Homo sapiens: one gene and its partners. The protein of the gene in region 1 interacts with the protein of each later gene in a biochemical or structural test. Each region holds a gene or a part of one and is shown in the gene's direction. Other genes may lie near its edges. The genes, in order: TACC1, CKAP5 and TDRD7.

What was found.
Region 2: the proteins of TACC1 (region 1) and CKAP5 form a complex in vitro, tested with the Homo sapiens proteins (one study listed by BioGRID and IntAct).
Region 3: the proteins of TACC1 (region 1) and TDRD7 form a complex in vitro, tested with the Homo sapiens proteins (one study listed by BioGRID).

What each region holds. Positions count from the first base shown.
Region 1 is NC_000008.11:38,818,151-38,821,904, forward strand, and holds part of TACC1 (transforming acidic coiled-coil-containing protein 1), read left to right. Parts: intron 1-1,371; coding exon 1,372-2,485; intron 2,486-3,754. UniProt on the Homo sapiens protein: Involved in transcription regulation induced by nuclear receptors, including in T3 thyroid hormone and all-trans retinoic acid pathways. Might promote the nuclear localization of the receptors.
Region 2 is NC_000011.10:46,742,412-46,745,298, reverse strand, and holds the end of CKAP5 (cytoskeleton-associated protein 5), read left to right. Parts: intron 1-721; coding exon 722-873; intron 874-1,033; coding exon 1,034-1,276; 3' UTR 1,277-2,251; downstream 2,252-2,887. UniProt on the Homo sapiens protein: Binds to the plus end of microtubules and regulates microtubule dynamics and microtubule organization. Acts as a processive microtubule polymerase. Promotes cytoplasmic microtubule nucleation and elongation. Plays a major role in organizing spindle poles.
Region 3 is NC_000009.12:97,409,886-97,413,639, forward strand, and holds the start of TDRD7 (tudor domain-containing protein 7), read left to right. Parts: upstream 1-2,210; 5' UTR 2,211-2,353; intron 2,354-2,875; exon of another isoform or gene 2,876-2,959; intron 2,960-3,754. UniProt on the Homo sapiens protein: Component of specific cytoplasmic RNA granules involved in post-transcriptional regulation of specific genes: probably acts by binding to specific mRNAs and regulating their translation.

The sequences.
Region 1 (3,754 bases):
CTTGAGCCTGGGGAAGTCAAGGCTGCAGTGAGCCATGATCAGGCCACTGCACTCCAGCCTGGGTAACAGAGACACTGTGTCAAGAAAAACAAAAATAAAAACTATAGCTATGATATTCCAGTGGTACTTGACTCTGATCCTGGATTAGGATTAGGAAGTAGGATTAGAGGGTCATCTTTTAATTTCCTTTAAAATCATGAGATATTATAACCAATTCACTGAGTTTTTCTGTGCTACTCTTGTTTCAGATATCTACGTTAGGAAATCACTTTTTGCTTTAACGAAATTACCTCATTCACACCTTCCTAATATTTGCAGCACTTATCCTAGTAAGACCACAATTAAAAAGGATTTTTATTTTTCACAAGTGATTTAGAGAATTCCTGGTCCGACTTAGAGACAGAGGTTCTAAAGAAAAAATAACTTTATTGTTTTACAATTTGTGTCTTAGTAAAATAAGGGCTATTTGTTTTAAAGCCATTTCCATATCTGGTTTTTCAAATTAGCTTTCTTATTTGGTTCTTTTAGTTTTTAGGTCTACAGAGAGATGATTCTGAGCTGGTCACAGTAGATTTTTTAAATTTATTTTTGAAACAGTCTTTTTAAATTCTGTTCTGTGGATACATGGCTTTTTTTTTTTCTTCTTTTTTTTTTCTTTGAGACAGAGTCTAGGCTGGAATGCAGTGGCGCAATCTCGGCTCACTGCAGCCTCCATCTCCCGGGTTCAAGTGATTCTCCTGCCTCAGCCTCCTGAGTGACTGGGACTACAGGCGTGTGCCACCATGTCTAGCTAATTTTTGTATTTTTAGTAGAGATGGGGTTTCACCATGTTGGCCAGGATGGTCTCAATCTCTTGACCTCATGATGTGCCCGTCTTGGCCTCCCAAGATACTTATGTTTTTAACATTCAAAGATTCAGATCTGTTCACTGCATAAAGTTCTGACCCTGAAGCTGTCAGGCTGTGCTTAGGAACTGTCTCAGCACCAATCTGCCTCCCTGCACCATAGCTGTTGGTTTCTAAATACTCCTCCAGACCAGTTTTACCCTACAGAATGTTAACATCACATAATAATACATTGCAGCAGACTCTTGCTCTATTTATCCTTTTTCTAAATAGCTCTTTTGGTGTACTTACTATTCGTATCACTTGGATAATGCACATACACAACTTGGGATAGGAAAATTCATTTTAGGGTGTTGTGCCAGCTCTTCTCTTTCAGGCTGTGCTGCCATCCTTCCTGAACTTTAGAGATGCTTAATAAAAGCAAAGAGGGAAGAACTTGCTATTTGTTTATATGAATTCAGGTAAGAGAGGATACTTACCAGTGACAGATAATTCTTTAATAGATGGTTTTTGTGTTTCATTTTAGAATCACAAGAAGCTGATGAACAGCTTGTAGCAGAAGTGGTTGAAAAATGTTCATCTAAGACTTGTTCTAAACCTTCAGAAAATGAAGTGCCACAGCAGGCCATTGACTCTCACTCAGTCAAGAATTTCAGAGAAGAACCTGAACATGATTTTAGCAAAATTTCCATCGTGAGGCCATTTTCAATAGAAACGAAGGATTCCACGGATATCTCGGCAGTCCTCGGAACAAAAGCAGCTCATGGCTGTGTAACTGCAGTCTCAGGCAAGGCTCTGCCTTCCAGCCCGCCAGACGCCCTCCAGGACGAGGCGATGACAGAAGGCAGCATGGGGGTCACCCTCGAGGCCTCCGCAGAAGCTGATCTAAAAGCTGGCAACTCCTGTCCAGAGCTTGTGCCCAGCAGAAGAAGCAAGCTGAGAAAGCCCAAGCCTGTCCCCCTGAGGAAGAAAGCAATTGGAGGAGAGTTCTCAGACACCAACGCTGCTGTGGAGGGCACACCTCTCCCCAAGGCATCCTATCACTTCAGTCCTGAAGAGTTGGATGAGAACACAAGTCCTTTGCTAGGAGATGCCAGGTTCCAGAAGTCTCCCCCTGACCTTAAAGAAACTCCCGGCACTCTCAGTAGTGACACCAACGACTCAGGGGTTGAGCTGGGGGAGGAGTCGAGGAGCTCACCTCTCAAGCTTGAGTTTGATTTCACAGAAGATACAGGAAACATAGAGGCCAGGAAAGCCCTTCCAAGGAAGCTTGGCAGGAAACTGGGTAGCACACTGACTCCCAAGATACAAAAAGATGGCATCAGTAAGTCAGCAGGTTTAGAACAGCCTACAGACCCAGTGGCACGAGACGGGCCTCTCTCCCAAACATCTTCCAAGCCAGATCCTAGTCAGTGGGAAAGCCCCAGCTTCAACCCCTTTGGGAGCCACTCTGTTCTGCAGAACTCCCCACCCCTCTCTTCTGAGGGCTCCTACCACTTTGACCCAGATAACTTTGACGAATCCATGGATCCCTTTAAACCAACTACGACCTTAACAAGCAGTGACTTTTGTTCTCCCACTGGTAATCACGTTAATGAAATCTTAGAATCACCCAAGAAGGCAAAGTCGCGTTTAATAACGTGAGTGACAGTGGGCGCTGGGTGTCGTGCTCTGTGTCTTGTCTGTTGAGTTTGGCAGCCAGCTACTTTTGGCTTTGGTGAACTGAATTTACCTTTGAGGTGCACCGAGGTTCATACAAAGCTTATAATGTTATCCTGCAGTCTTCACTGTTTGGCTTAACTGTTGTGTGGAATCAGAAATACCAGAGGTTTCCTTTTCAGATTGTTGTCTTTTTTCTGAATCCTTAGCTTAATCAGCTAAGCTCTTTTCCCTTGACCCTAGAGACTTTTTTATGTTTAAAAAAAATAGACCAGTCACGGTGGCTCACACCTGTAATCCCAGCACTTTGGGAGGCCGAGGCAGGTGGATCACTTGAGGTCCAGAGTTTGAGACCAGTCTGACCAACATGGTGAAACCTGTCTCTACTAAAAATGCAAAAATTAGCTGGGCGTGGTGGTGCACACCTGTAGTCCCAGCCACCCGGGAGGCTGAGACATGAGAATTGCTTGAACCCAGGAGGCAGAGGTTGCAGTGAGCCGAGATCACGCCGCTGCTCTCCAGCCTGGGTGACAGCAAGACTCCATCTCAAAAAAAAAAAAAGAATGGCATGAGATAGACAGGTAGAGATTTGATGGTTTTCAGAAATCCTGGCTGGACTGTTAGGAGTCGTGTTATAGACAATTCAAATGTCACTGCTGGCCACCGTCTTCATACTCTATGGATAAAACAGAAATTCCAGTCCTGTAACTTACCTCTGTAGCGTCAATAACGTGGGAAATGATCCAAAAGGGTCTTGTAGAAAGAAGACTTTTTACATAAACAGAAAGCTGTGATTTTTGTGGGAAACAAACCTACCACTAAAATTGATGAGAATTCTTGTCTCCATGTGTAATTTCTGGCTCATCAGCCAGGAGGTAAAATTTCAATAAGAATCAAGAATATTTTAAATGATCAGTTAAAACTGAGTAAATTAGTTGGTTTAGTCAATCCCCCATCTCTCCTGGGAAATTATCTGACTTTTGCAAGGTCCTTGGTGTTTTCAGTGTAATTACCTAAGGTCCTATTCCATATCAAGTTTCAGTTTAACTTTGCTACAGGATTACTTTATCACAAAACTTGAGTAGATGATAATACAATCATACATCACTTAGCCACAGGGTAAGCCACAGGGAAATGCATCCTTAGGTGATTTTGTTGTGTGAACATCGTCAAGTGAACTTACTCAAACCTAGGTGGTGAAACCTACTACACACCTAGGCTATATGGTACAGCCTGTTACTCCTAGGCTA
Region 2 (2,887 bases), on another chromosome or scaffold:
TTCTATTTACCATAAGGCAGTGTTTCCTCCCAGTACCTTACCTTTGGGGCCTGTGGAATGCATTTGCATTGATACCAAGTGAAATATTTTAAAGGCCCGCATTGTATCATTGTTCATTCTCAGAAATTTAGGAAGTGTGATGGATTTTTTGTTGTTTTGGTTTTCCTCTCTCCTGCCAGAATATTGATCTTAGTGGTAGGGTTACAGACACTCCAGTTCTATGCCCTCTTTAGATAATTGTTGGACACCTTCTCTTCCCCATGAATACACCATAGCCTTGGACACCTTGCTTCCTTCACAGGTTCAAATGAGTTTCTCCTATGTGACATTGGTCCAAACTTAATCTAATTCTTCCAAACATTTAAGGTCCTCGGGTTTTTCAGTTGGGCAATTACAGTATGCTTAGGAGTAGCTTCAGCTTTTTGGATTGCCCAAGTCAGCCCTGGGATTACTGGAGTACAATCCCCTGCATAACCCAGGATGCAGATGGATGACCCAATTTACATTCTGCCTTTCTATATCAGTTTTTTGCATTCTCAAGAAGCTTATATTGTATATTTCAGAGCACCCTTATCACCAACTCCAGGTAGATTCTTGTGGAATTTGTCGTTTTCAAGTATAGGAAATTCTTAATTGTTCTTTTTGGTGGGAGATTAACCAAGGCACTTTAGAAGGGGGATATGTGGATATCTGAATATTCTTTCTACTTTTTCCCCTCTAGGCATCTCCCCTCAGATGGAAGTCACATGTGTGCCCACGCCCACAAGCACAGTGTCCTCCATAGGTAACACAAATGGGGAAGAAGTGGGGCCATCTGTCTACTTGGAAAGGCTAAAGATCCTCCGACAGCGATGTGGTCTGGACAACACAAAGGTACTGCTCCTTTTCTTCTGTGCAGTTCAGGGAGGGTAGTCACAAGCAGGTCCGAGGCAGGCTGGCCCACAGAGAAGTGGCTTAGTCTTGCTGTAGTTCTGGAGCTGCATCTTGACCTGCTTGACCTGACCTTAGACAATCTCTCTCCTTCTCTCAATAGCAAGATGACCGACCTCCTTTGACCTCTTTGCTCTCCAAACCAGCAGTTCCTACTGTCGCCTCTTCCACAGACATGCTCCACAGCAAACTCTCTCAGCTCCGGGAGTCACGGGAGCAGCACCAGCATTCAGACCTGGATTCTAACCAGACTCACTCTTCAGGAACTGTGACCTCCTCCTCCTCCACAGCTAACATAGACGACTTGAAAAAAAGACTGGAGAGAATAAAGAGCAGTCGCAAATGAAGCTGCCCCACTCCCCCGGCACCCTGCAGCTTTAGTTTACTAAACTAGAAGTCCTCATAGTTTAAAATGGCCTCAGCAGGCCTAGTGTATACAAACTGGTTGTATGTATCATGCCGTGGAGCTAGGGGGAGGAGTCATTGTGGCACAAGTATTTGTACATACTCTGCTTCTCTCTGTCAGCGTCCTGCTGCTCTAGAAGACTGTCCGTGGATGAGTTTAGTGTACAGACTTGTAAACAGCTGCCCCCTCTCTGCTCAGTCTAGTTCCCAGATCCTTTTCTTTTCTTTTTAATTGCTCATTTGTAAAATTGTCCTAATCTTTCCTAGCTTTTTAATAGTTAATATTAGAAACTCTTTAATAGTTTTCCTTTCAGTTTGTGAGCTCTTCTCTGTCGCCCTGAAGGGTCACTGTATTCTGTATGAATGCATGGCATGATACAACTAATTTAAGAGTCTTTTATAAATAAAGTTTGCATTAACTATACCTGACTCCCAAGATGCTCCATATCATGGAGTGTTGGGCAGCAATTTTTTAACTTTTGGTACCAGCTGGGTATTCAGCCAGTTAGAGAAAGGTTAATTACTGCTTACAGAGCTTCCCTTTTTCTTGGCTCACAGACTTGGAGCTGTCTTTTATTCCTTTGGAATGGAAGGAACTCTCCTTCCCTGCTCTCCACAAACAGCTCCTAGGGAGCAGAAAAATCTCATCCTTCCTTGTTTTGAGATTTTGGTCATGATTTCCCTCCAATTATCACCAGTCGTTTCAAGAAGCTCTTGGGCATCCTACCACTTTGCTGACCAAAGGCACACAAGATTGCGCCCAGAGATTGGCTGGGCTTCAGTGGTTCTCACACTACAACTAGATTTGTGTTCATTTGACTAATGGAGTTTGGGAAATCTTAGTGGTTTGCTGCTTGGTTGTATGAGTCTCTTTTGGTCCAGGCTAACAGTTGCTTCACATTCAGTCAGAGTAAGGATGAGAAAGTGAGCTGAGTATTCACCTCTGGAATAAATTCCACAGGACCTCCCTCCACAGTCAGAAAAACTCTTCAGGATGAAAAGGTTCTGGATTCAGGAGGAGATTTTGGGCAGTTATAAAGTTCAAAGGAACTTTCCTATTGTAGCCCACCTTCAATTCAATTGATGTCCAAGAAATGAAAGATTGATGGAAGATTAATCCTGTAAAGGTTCCAGTCATCGTTTTCAGGTGGCCCCGGAGCCTCCTGAAATTAAACTTGTCTCTCCTTTATAGTGGGAACATGGGAGTGGGTATTTGTTCACTGAAGGGATGATGGAGGCGTTTGCTGCTATAGTGGAAAGACATATTTAGAAAGAATGGCTACAAAGGCTGGGCCTGGTGGCTCACTCATACAACCGTAGCATTTTGGGAGGCTAAGGTGGGTGAATCACTTGAGCCCAGGAGTTCAAGACCAACATGGGCAACATGGCTCTACCAAAAAAATACAAAAATTAGCTGGGTATAGTGGCTCAAGCCTGTAGTCCCAGCTACTTGGGAGGCTGAGGTGGGAGGATCACCTGAGCCCAGGAGGTCAAGGCTGCAGTGAGCCGTGATCACTCCACTACACTCCAGCCTGGGCAACAGAGCAAGACC
Region 3 (3,754 bases), on another chromosome or scaffold:
TCCTTACACAGTGGAAGGGGCAGAAGGCTCCCTTAAGCCCCTAAGGGCACTAATTCTATTCACAAGGACGAAGCCATCATGACTTCTCAAAGGTCCCACCTCTCAACACCGCAAGAATGGGGATTAGGTTTCAACATGAATTTTGTAGGGACACAAACATTCAGACCATAGCAAAGTCTATTAAAAATCCACTGCAATGTTTGGAGTAGACTGGAAGGGAAAGAACAGAAAGACATCTGAAATAGACTGAAATAGAGCAAAGGAGATGCAGAGAAATTCCAGAGAGAGACATTTAGGCAAACTTAGTCAGGGACCAGATCTAGGATATGAAAGAGAACAGTGTTCAAAGAAAAGCCCTGTTCAAAAACTCTGAACAATTCCCTACCGCCTTTGGGGAAACATCCAAGTGTCTGAGAGCTGGATATCAGGTTTTCCAGATTTACTTCCAATTTTTCTTTGTATTGCCTACTGCATCTTTTCACTGAATCAAAAGCTCTATAAGCACAGGCTTATCCATGAAAATTTGTTATTTAACAGCAGGTGTTCAATATATATTAGTTGATTGTCCATTCACCTTCTGACGGATGTTTGTATTCTTTCCATGTGGGGCTACGGCCAACACAACTGCCATGAGCACTCTTGTACAGGTTTTTGTGTGGACATCTGCTTTCATTTCTCCTGGGTAAATACCCAGGAGCAGAATTGCTGGGTTGCGTGGTAGGTTTGGTACATCCCTACAATACCATTCAGCAATAGAAAGACATGAACTATTGATACATGTAACAACATGGATGAACATAATTTGCTAAATAAAAGAAGCCAGGCAGCCCCCCAAAGGATAGTACATACGATTCCATACATAAAAGTTTTACATATAACTCTAGAAAAAGCAAAATAATCTATAGCAACAGAAAGCAGGTGAGCAGTTGAGGGGGCAAGTGACAGGGAGGGACAAGATATAAGAATTACAAAGGATCACAGTAAAACTTTTTTGGGTGATGGATATGTTCATGATTTTGATTGCAGTGATGGTCTCACAGTGATATATATATATCAAAACTTATCAAACTGTACATTTTAAACATTCAGTTTATTGTATGTCTTATACATGGCAGTCAAGCTGTAATAAAATACCGGTTGAATAAGCAGCAGGTTCTCAGTAAATGCATAATTTATCAAGCTGTACATTTTAAACGTTCAGTTTATTGTATGTCTTATACATGGCAGTCAAGCTGTAATAAAATACCGGTTGAATAAGCAGCAGGTTCTCAGTAAATGCATAATTTATCAAGCTGTACATTTTAAACGTTCAGTTTATTGTATGTCTTATACATGGCAGTCAAGCTGTAATAAAATACCGGTTGAATAAGCAGCAGGTTCTCAGTAAATGCATATCCAATGGTGCAGAGAAGTGTTCAATGTTGGCTGCAGGGATGCAAAGCAGGTGCCAATAAGTGTTGGTGGAATTAATGTGCAGAATAAATAAGTATTCACTTATTAGGTGTTCAATAACTTTAGAGTGAATGAATAAATTTGACAGATATTTATTGCTGATCGTGTGCTAGGCACTATCCTAGGCTCTGGGAATAGGTTAAGGAACCAAACAAAAATCCTTGTGCTCACAGAGCTTTAATTTTAGAAGGATAGCAGACAATAAAAGCATAAGTAAAATACATATAGTGTGCTAGATAGGTGCTAAGGAGAAATAAGGTTGAGAATGGGGATAGGGAAAGTCAAGGAAGGAGGTTGACATGTTAGAGACTGTGTCCACCGTCATTGAAAGGGTAATGCTTGAGAAAGGCCTGAAGGATATGGGCGGACAGAGTGTGTGTCTAGGGCAATAAAAAGTAACTGCTCCAGATGTTGAAGAAAATAATGTGCAGGAGTTGAACTGTTTGGAAGGAGGGTGAGCCCCATAGAAGGAGCCACCCTCGCCCCCTGCTGAGTCCCGGCTCGCTCGGCCCGCGCGTACCTGCGTTGTCCACCAGGAGGCGCTCCCGCACCCGCCCCGCAGGCGTCTTCCGCCGCCGGCCGGTGCGTGGGCACGCGCAGAAACCGCTAGGTGGCGACGGTTTCCCTTCCCACGCGCGGACGCCGGCGTGGGCCGACGCGGCCGGAGCGCCCGCGCGTGCGCAGAGCCGAGGCCAGGCTGCCCTCGAAGCGGGGCGGGGCGAAGCGGGGCGGGGCCGAGCAGGGCGGGGCGGGGGCTTGAGGTGATTCCCAAGCCGCGGGGCGGCTCCGGTGGTGCGGGGAAACCGAAAGTGGGCGGCGGCCGCGGCGGGGCCCCTGGCGGAGACGGCGGCAGGAGCTGGGCCCAGAGACGCGGGGACGGGCCGTGGGCCCCCGGAACGAGGTGAGTGCAGGTCCTGCGGGCTCCGGGCGCGACAGGTGCCGGGCGACGTCGGACGAGATTTCGGGCGGGCGCGGCGCACCTGGGTCACCGGTGGGACCGCGGCCAGGGCCGGGGGCTCCAACAGGCTCGGGGCCTTTTCCCTGCAGCCGCAGGGGATTGCCCCCGCCCCGACGCCTGGGAACCGGGCTGGGCGCCGGGGGAGTTGGAGTTCCAGAGCGTTGTGTTTTAAATCTCTGAAGGGACCCTGCTCCGGGCCGGGCGTTCACGCGGGAGTCGGACGGAGCCTCCTGCCGCCTCGGAAGCTCTGCGCCGTGGGGGAAATGCAGCAGCGGGGTGTGGACGCGGGCGGGAGATGCGGACCAGGAAGTGGTTCCCGCTACCGGCGCGACAGGCCGCAGCCGCCGCCCCCAGCGAGGGATGTCCGCGCTCCCCTATTTGAACCCAAGTATTTTACACCACGAACTTCTCTTGAAGGTCTCTATAATCTGGAGACGAGCCCCAGGCAGGCCGCTTAAGTAATGCAGGACACACATCCCCATTTCTCTCAAACGAGGAGCACCCAGTGGGTACAGAGCACCCAGCTGGGAGGGAAACATGGATCCGTGAGTAAGTTGTCTCTCAACTTTCAGTAGCATCCCCTCAGCAGGGTCAGACTCTCAGCTTCAGCTTGCTAGGAGGGAGCTTGGAGCCGGCATATCTTTCTGCTCCCATTCACTTGAGAGGTATATTTCCATTAATAGCTAAAGGTACCATTCTCAAATAATTTCTAAGAGCAGGGAAGGGAAACAACCACATTAGAACAAGTCCTGGCCCAGAAGAATTCTGATCACCGCCCATCCAAACCAAACCAAACCAAAAAACCACAGATCTAGTTCATTAACCCTCCTACCAACACCTCTCTGCTCTCCAATCGTGCCGGTGAAAAAAATGCAGAGAAATGTTCTCTCTAGAGAGATAGGCAACAGCTTAATAGCAGAAGTAAAACTTGGACCCAAATCCCTGTCTCGTCCTGGGCTGCCTTGATGTGTATGAATGTGTTGCATACTGCAAATAATGTGAACTTTGCAGACCTGGATTGAAATCTGGGCTTCTCATTTTACAAATTGTGTGATCTTGAACAAATTACATGCTTTCTCTTAGCCTGGTTTTCTATGTGTCAAATAGAGGTACCTGGCTTACTTTGCAAGGCTTTTCCAAGATAACCACTGTATATCCTTTGCCTCATAATAATTGCCAAGCAGTATTCACTCTCTTCCTCCCAACAAACGGTCCATGTTTTACATAATTGGATTTTAGTTTTTTGAGGGCAGGGACACAAAGATCTTTGTGTTTACTATATAATATAAATGGGCACATGGTGGATATTTTTGCATTTCCTCTCAGCTGACATTCATTGAGCAT